Regions from separate parts of the Homo sapiens genome. Here region 2 is linked to region 1. The links come from fine-mapping of genetic effects on gene expression. A gene starts in region 1. The other region holds a variant in brackets. All regions are shown on one strand. Distances are from middle to middle. Region 1 holds the start of MED21 (mediator complex subunit 21). Region 2 overlaps FGFR1OP2 (FGFR1 oncogene partner 2).

Region 1 (4,398 bases):
TTCACTCTGTCCTTATTATCCTTCTAGTTACAAGACATGTATGAATATGCAAAATTTTCCCTAAAATAAGATTTCTATCCAGCAGCATCATTACAATTTGATTTCGTAAAACCTCAAAGGAGTAGTTCCCTGAGGAAGGCTGGCTGGCAGCCCAGGCAAGTCCCTGCAGGGTAGAATTTATCTTGGTGAATTCAACACTTAGAGGCTGGTCCTCTCAGCTTAAAAACTAGTGTTATTCACCCAGGGTAGATCAGTTTTATCACAAGTAGATTCACACTCTTCAAGTGTACAAATTCTGATGTATTAAGAAAAATGCCAAGTTATTAGCTTACAGTGAGGAAAAAAAAAACTGGCAAGGAAACCAGGTACTTAGGTTTTCCTATCAGCATGTTTTCTCTCTAGCCCCTTATCTAGGACATTAAATCACAATCAGACAATGAGAAACATAACTATCAATGGAAAACTATTTAGCAGAAAACAATCTAACTCGTAATGGTAATAAGTACACCCATTGCCGCATGGGAATACCCACTGACGTCTTGGTCAACGGGATGCACATATTATGTCAGTCCCCTATGGTTATAATAAAGCTGAAAAATTCTTATTGCCTAGTGACATCGTAGCAGTACTAACGCTGTAGCGCAATGCGTTCCTTAGTGCTTGTGGTGATGCTGCTGTAAATCAACCTACCACACTGCCAGTGTATGAAAGCATAGCACATACAATTATGTGCAGTCCATGACACTTGATAATGATACTAAATGACTTTGTTACTGGTTTATGTATTACTGTTTTATCGTTATTTTACATTGTACTTCTACTTATTAAAACAAAAAAAAAAGTTATCGCCAAAACCATGCATTTCTCAGAACATGACCCCTTCATTAGGGGCCCATGACTGCGCATCCTCTGGCTTTGCTTCTACTTTCCACTCAGGCATAGTGTGGAGGAAAAATAACCAGAAGGAACAAAGCTGGGGAGCTACTTACTAGACTTGGCCTTTAATAGAGAGTAGAATTTGGGGGAGACATTAAAAAGGACTTGTAGGCCGGGCACGGTGGCTCACACCTGTAATCCCAGCACTATGGGAGGCCGAGGCGGGAGGATCGCTTGAGGCCGGGAGTTTGAGACCAGCCTGGACAACATGGTGAAACCCCGTCTCTACTAAAAATACAAACATTAGCCGGGCGTGGTGGAGGGCGCCTGTAATCCCAGCTACTTTGGCTCAGACAGGAGAATCGCTTGAACCCGGGAGGCGGAGGATGCAGTGAGCAGAGATCGCGCCACTGCACTCCAGCCTGGGCGAAAGGCACTGTCTCCAAAGTAAAAAAAAAAAAAAAAAGAAAAGAAAAAAGACTCAAATAAGCGGAAAGACATACGAGGATTAGAAGATTTCCTATCATAAAGATGTCCCCAAACTGATGTATTCTGAGGGATGGCCAAGAGGCAAGAGATGGAAGGATACTCTGGGCCCAAAGGAACGAGCTAAGATGAAAGAAAATCTCTCACCTCACCTCAGCATCGCTCCCGCACCAACCTGAAAGCGCTGGTGAAGGAATACTCTCGGCTGACATTTCATTACAAAAACCCAGTCATCCAGAGCATGAGATCTCCCTTGGTGGATTAAAATTGATGAGGAAAGAAAAAAGCTCCTGCTTCTCCTCCCAACCCCCAAAAGAAAGAGAACCCGTAAGCACCACTGACAAGAAAATAAAACTGTCCTCAGGGAACACGACAGGACCGCGCAGCCCACAAGTCCTGGCGGCCTCACCCGGACAAGAACGATCTTCCCGGTCTCCTCAAGCGAAAGAGTCTGCTCCCTCCCGCACCTTCAAGCACCGCCCGGCAGCCGGCCTCAAACCTCCGAGTTCGCGGTGGCGCCTCCCGAGAGAGCGCTTTATGCCGAAGCCCTGTCTCTCAGTCCGCTCCCCACTTTCAAGTTTTGCCTCTTGGGCCCCTTTCCTCCCTTGCTTTACCTCAAGAAAGAGAAAGACAGAGGCTAATCGAATGAAATTCCTCACCGAATTCACAGCGTCCTGAAGCTGCGTGAGCCGATCCGCCATGTTCCTACCGCAGCAAACAGACGCCAAAACAGCTGCTCTTCCGCGACTGGGCAGCTCTGGCACGCGTCATGGCCAATCACAGGGCTGCGTCCTTGGAACGGGTGGGGTCGGAGAGAACTCCCCGCCCCGTCAGGAGTGGGTGGTACTCCCGAGGCGGCCTTTCTAGAGCGGGCTACACCTGAGGAGAGGCTGGATCTTTTGAGTAACTGGGGGAATGGTCTGGGGTCCAATCGCTTTGAAATACAGTCCAAGAGCCGAAATACTCCCCTTGGGGTTGTTAGGTGTTAAAGGCTTCAGAGATTGTTGGATTCTGCGGGGATTTTTTTTTTTTAAGTAATTTCTCGTACCCTCTCGTGTTTATTTATTGACCAAATTGAAGAGTAAATATATTTATTTTTATTTATTTATTTATTTATTTATTTATTTATTTGAGACGGAGTCTCGTTCTGTCGCCCAGGCTGGAGTGCAGTGGTGCGATCTCGGCTCACTGCCAGCTCCGCCTCCCGGGTTCACGCCATTCTCCTGCCTCAGCCTCCGGAGTAGCTGGGACTACAGGCGTCCGCACCACGCCCGGCATTTTTTTTTTTTTTTTGTACTTTTAGTAGAGACGGGGTTTCACCATGTTAGCCAGGATGGTCTCGATCTCCCGACCTCGTGCTCCGCCCGCCTCGGCCTCTCAAAGTGCTGGGATTACAGGCGTGAGCCACCGTGCTCGGCCAAGAAAAATTAGCTGCACAATTTAGATTTAGAGTTGGGACTTATTGAGAGTTTAAGTGTGAAAAGTGATAATCGAAACTTGGTATTTAAGGAAATTTAGCCTGAGGATAGTCTGGTAAGAAATGAGTTTGGAATCGGCAAATAACAGGTTTGTAGACTTCAAAAAACTCTCATATCCTCTTTCTCAGGCTGATTATCCGTGATTACCTTCCTGTGGCTGCGGGGAAGGTGGAAGACACAGTCCCTGGGGAACTCAGCTTGTTGGATTTATCCCAACACTTACTGTGAAGCACCACTTCTGCTTCACACCAATGCCCCACCCTCAGCCCCAAACAGTCTACAGACTTACTGGAGCCTCATTAAGAACGTGGATGAGGCATGTTCCCCATAATGGGACTAATGAGAAATCACTCTGTAATTTGTTTTCACTGTAACTTGGGGGGATTCTACAACCTTCTCCTCCCACCCTCACTTGAGAGTGTACCTTACGGAATGGCTGCCACATGCCAGGAAGTATATCCAGTGCTCAATTTGCAAAGATGAATAAGCCAAGGACTCACTAAGGAAGGTTTTGCAGTTGTCCAAGATTAAGATGAGCTGGGCCTAGAATAGGGTGTTGACCCTGATAAGCGGGGAAAGAAAGACTAAAATATATTTTTGAGAAAAAAAATTAATATGGATTGGTGACTGATTGGATATAGTTTAGTCCACTCCATAAGAATACTAAGTTTTGCAGCCTGATTGAAGGGAACTTGGGCAGTTGAAGTAGAGAAGCCACTTCAAGACATTCATATTGTGACACAGTTTTTGTCCTGCCATTATCTTCCTAATAGGTCTTCTGTGCCTCCACAGAGACCTCAGGTTGATGTCCAACTATCTCTGCCTGGTTTTCAAGATTTACTATAATCTGGCTCCAGCAAACAGACCCAGCCTCACCTCCTGATAATTTTCTGAGTGAAATAATCTGTTTCAGCCAAGGTCCCTGACCCCTTGGTTTTCCTGGTTCTTCAGCCTCTTTCGGCCACGGATCTTTTTAAGAATCAGATAAAAGCTGTGGACCCTTTCCCCAGACCAGACTCTCAACTTAGCCTACATTTGAAAAGGGGTTTAGGAAGCTCTTGAAGCTGTAGACTTCAAGAATAACCCACCTGCCAAATATAGTCTGTGCATCTAGCTCAGGATTTCTCAATGGCTGCACTCTTGACTTTTCAGGCTAGATTATTCTTTGCTGTGGGATGCTGACCTGTGCACTGTAGGATGTTTAGAGCATCCCTGTCCCTTACCCCTGAGATGCCGGTAGCATCCCCCCAATCCATTTATGCCAACATAAAGTATCTCCAGATAGTCCCAAATGTTGCTGGGGGGCAAAATTGCCCCCAATTGAGAACCACTGGTCTAGCTCTTTCCTCATTCTTTACCTTTCCCAAAGCAATTTCTTTCCTGCTATTTAATCCTTACCCTACCTTTTTAAGCTGTACACTTCTCATATAAATTTTATGAATTGCTAGAGTCCATAGGGACCTCTCCTTTCTTCCTTTCATGATTTGGACACTTTCTCATATGCTTTTCCATTTGCTTCTGTTGCATCGCCAACTGGATTATATGGTTTTAGGAGCAG
Region 2 (4,398 bases), 56 kb after region 1:
AGACACTTGCCTCAGTCACTTTTTTTGGTTAACAGGTTTTCTGATTCACAAGAAACTTATAATGACCTCTGGAAAGACAGAGGTTGTAGGAAGAGGTTTACTCTGAATTGTAAATTTTTTAGTATGCTAAGATTTTTAACAGTGTACATTTATTTTTTCATTTAAAAAATAACAAAACATGACCTAACAAACTTCTGGGAATTTGCACGCTAGAAATTACAATAAATAAAGTTATGTATATGGATGTTTACTGCATTATTTTGTATTAAACTTTGCAAACTATCCATCAGTTGGGGGAACTGATGAATAAATTACAACTCCATAATGGTAGCTACAAAAATGCTTGATTTACAGGCATCAGAAACTGACTGGCTAATGCAAACAGTACAATTAGCTGGAAGAATACTGATGCTGTTTGCTTCAGGACATTTCCCCGTATGCATCTGATTTTTACATATTTGTAATTATATGGGTAATTTATGTTAAGCTTTTTAATGCATATTTAGGTACTTTTTTCTTCTTGTTGCTAGCATCTTCAAGCCATAGACTGTAATCAACTGTATTGAGTGAATATTGACATTTAACTATTCCCCTACTGTAGGATATTTAGGTTGAATCCAATTTGTATACTTTAACACTACCATAATGTAGCTTTGACCAGGGGTAGCAGTGGAGGAGAGAAATGGTAGGATTCTGATTTATTTGGAAGGAAGAGCCAACAACAGGATTTGCTGATGAATAGGATGCACGATATGAGAAAGTGGAGTCAAAGTTGCCACCAAGGTTTTTGGCCTTAGCAACTGCAAGGATGGAGTTGTCATCAAGCAGGATGGGAAAGAGTATGGAGGCGTTCTGGGAGGTTTGGAGTTTGGCTTTGGACATCTTAAGCATAAAATTTCTCTTTGACAGTCACAGCTGCATGAATCCGGGGTGAGAGGTCTATGCTGGAACTGTGAATTTAGGAGCCATCAAGCATAGAGGTGGTATTTAGTCATGAGACTGGGTGAGATCACCAGTGAGTAGAGACACTGCACAGAATAGGTATAAGGACTAAGCCCAGTGGCTCTCTAATGTTAAGAGGTCAGCGAGAAGAAACAAAGGAGACTGAGGAGCAGCCAGAGAGGTTAAAGGAAAAAGTGTCTCCTCAAATTCCAATTAGAAATTATCATCTTCATCAGTATTTTACTAAAAAATGTTCTCCTATTTCACTCTGACAATGAAAAAAGGTAGTGACCACCAAAATTATGGATCTACGATTGTCCATTTTTCATTGAAGCAATTTTTTTTTTTTTTTTGAGATGGAGTTTCACTATTATTGCCCAGGCTGGAGTGCAATGGTGAGATCTCGGCTCACTGCAACCTCTGCTTCCCAGGTTCAAGCGATTCTCCTGCCTCGGCCTCCCAAGTAGCTGAGATTACAGGCACCCACCACCATCCCTGGCTAACTTTTTGTATTTTTAGTAGAGACAGGGTTTACCATGTTGGCTAGGCTGGTCTTGAACTCCTGACCTCAACTGATCCACCTGTTTCGGCCTCCCAAAGTGCTGGGATTACAGGGAAGCAATTTATTTCTATAAAATTTTAGAAGTCACCTTGATATTAAAGAATATAAAATTAGAGCAGAAATTGTGAGGTTATAAATTGGTTTTTAAGAACTTTCTTATATAAAATAAAAATATAGTTGATAGATGAAAAACAATAGATGTCTTAGTTTCCTAGGGTTACTCTAACAAATTACCACAGGCTGGGTGAATGAAAACAACAGAAATTTATTTCCTCACAGTTCTGGAGGCCAGAAGTCTGAAATCAAGCAGGCTTGGTCCTTTCTGGAGCCCGTGAAGAACCCATTCCATGCCTCTCTTGCAGCTTCTGGTGGTGGCTAGCAGTCCTTGCGTAACTCATTGCCTCTGTCCTCATGCTGCTATATCTGTGTTTCATATCTCCTCCTCTCTTATTGTAACGACACTAGTCACTGGGTTTGGAGCCCACCCAAAATCCAGGGTAATTATATCCTGAGATCCCCTAATCACATCTGTAAAGACTATTTCCAAATATGGTCACCTTCCCAGGTGTATCAAGTTAGGACTTAGACTTACCTTCTAGGGGACATGATTCAACCTACTACAAATGGTAAGAAGTTCTGCAGGATCCACACTAAGAAGCTGCTAATTCCTAAGGAATACAGATAGAGGTCACTGCTAAGTAGTTTTGCACTAAGAAGAGACAAAAAACCTTAAAATTAAACCATATATAAGAATA[A/C]GGGTAAGCACTTTTCAAATTAAATTGGAGACCATACCAATTTTAATCATTCATCTTTAATAATAAAATAGGTTCCTATGCAGTACATACCTCAAACATAAACTTAAGGTTCTGTTTAACAACAACCAAAAAAAAAAAAAAAATAGGATGGAAATGTGTCACTAAATAACAAAGTAAATGTCTTTAAACATGAAGACCTTAAATTCATATCCAAGCAAAAAGACGAAGAATAAGTTAACCCAACTTGTTTACAAAAATAATTATTTATCAAGTAAGCTTTTATAGTAGAGCTGCCTCAATGAACTGCCTCAGACTTAATCTCAATGGTGTAGCTTGAAATAGATTTCCTTTATTAGCAGGGATAAGAAGTATCTGAATGAATGTGTCATTAAATTAAGGAATACTTTCCCAAAAACAATAAAAAGTTTAAAAATAAAAACTGTCATTTATTTATAAAATATCAAATAAGGCCTCTGACTGAAAAAAAGAAATCTATATAATGTTTGGGCCATTAGCCCTTTTCTATTCAATCAGTCTCATCCACCCCATTCACCCCAAACTTAAGATAAAAAAATTCTCAAGTGTAGTTTTGAATTTTACCAATATATGAAATTATACATAAAATTACCATATAAAGTAATATTTAACAAATTATATACTCAAAGTATAATTTTCCATTTGTCTTAATTTTAATACGTATTCAACATAAATGAGTACAATATATTTAACCATGTTTGACACTCTTCTTTTATCCCTTTTTAATACAATCACCACAACATAAGAAAATTTAGGTTTCAACTGATGTTAAAGCACATTTCTGTATCTGGTGGTTTTTAAAAAAATTACATATTATATATTTGACATTTTAAAAGACAACAGAAACAAATCCACAGATTACTCCACCTTTACCCCCACTTTCAGCTGAAAGGTTTTAAGAAAAATCTTGCAGGTTATGAGGACCAGATGGAGCTTAAAAACAGATCCGGAACTTTTTTTTTGAAATTGTATTTACTTTTTTTTTTTGTATCTCAAGAATACTTAAAGGAAAAAAAAAAGGGTTCTATGAGCCAGAGGAATTCCCAATTCACTTTGAAATTACCATACCTATCTTGCCATATCAAACATTTCAATTCTGTTAACTAAATGAACTACATAATATCCTTAAAAATCAGCCAGAGAAGAGAAAAACAAATCTCGTCTTCATTATTGACTTTGAACCAAAACTTATTCTTTCAAAGGAGTAGTTTAACCTACTAAATATGTCTATTATAAGATCTTCTTTCTTAGAAAGTAGTATTCCTTCTTTTTCATTCCTGAAATGGTATTTCTTACACTTAAACAAGTTATGGACAATTGTTAGCTAAGTATCAGTTATGATAAATTGCTAAAATTAAATTATCTGTTTAAGGTACATATAACACATTCCTATAGCCTTTAAAACTGTATTTTCTTTCACAAAAATTTAAATAAATGTGAAAGTAGGCAATCACTAGAAGTCTCATGGTACATAAACTTTGCATCAACTTTGACGCCAAATAAGGATGAAATTTAGCGTACAAATCCTCCGTTCACAAAACAGTGGCAAAAATTTATATTTTTAAATTGGTATAATTTTATGCATTCTCAAACATTTACTGGGAATATTCAAGTTTACCTAATTAATCACCCAGAAAGCCAGCAGTACTGCCAAAAGCTCTTGGTATATTCAGTAGTCACTGTGAAAACTTTTCATTTCTTTACCATTTGGCAATGGCTCAGTTTCTATTTTCCAATTATGTTTTGGAATAAAGTCTATGACCATTAACTATGCATTTTTTGTTGCTATCTCATAGCCCGTGCACTGTACATATTTACAGAGAAAAAAATAAAGGATTGAATTTTCTGTCCATTCATTCATTCACTTATTTGACCATTTGGAGCCATGTAAGAAGCTCACAGACTCAGAAACTCTTCAGCTCTTCCTCAGACTCAAATCACTGTTGGTCACTAATGCTGACAAAGAAGTACTTTCCGACGCATCATCTTTCCTTAGGTTCAAAAATGATTCTCGAGTTATTTGAAGGATCTCTCTCAAGCCTTTGTTTTCTTGCTAAAAGGCAAGCAAAAACAAAGATGCAGTCACTATCTACAAGGTAGCTA

The links. PIP is the estimated chance that this variant, and not a neighbour inherited with it, causes the effect.
Region 2: its variant is the best candidate, but not a certain one, in a credible set for the expression of MED21 in cerebellar hemisphere (GTEx, PIP 0.57).

The regions. Positions count from the first base shown.
Region 1 is chr12:27,020,245-27,024,642 of GRCh38, reverse strand. MED21 (mediator complex subunit 21) reads right to left here and starts at 2,085. Exons shown (of 4, transcript NM_004264.5): 1 at 2,022-2,085. The coding sequence starts at 2,063. RefSeq lists an enhancer at 1,764-2,053.
Region 2 is chr12:26,964,546-26,968,943 of GRCh38, reverse strand. FGFR1OP2 (FGFR1 oncogene partner 2) reads right to left here. Exons shown (of 7, transcript NM_015633.3): 7 at 2,296-4,348. The coding sequence ends at 4,211. Among named protein-coding and RNA genes, the nearest start is that of FGFR1OP2, 28 kb to the right of the region's middle. The variant A/C (reference allele first, on the strand shown) is at 2,260.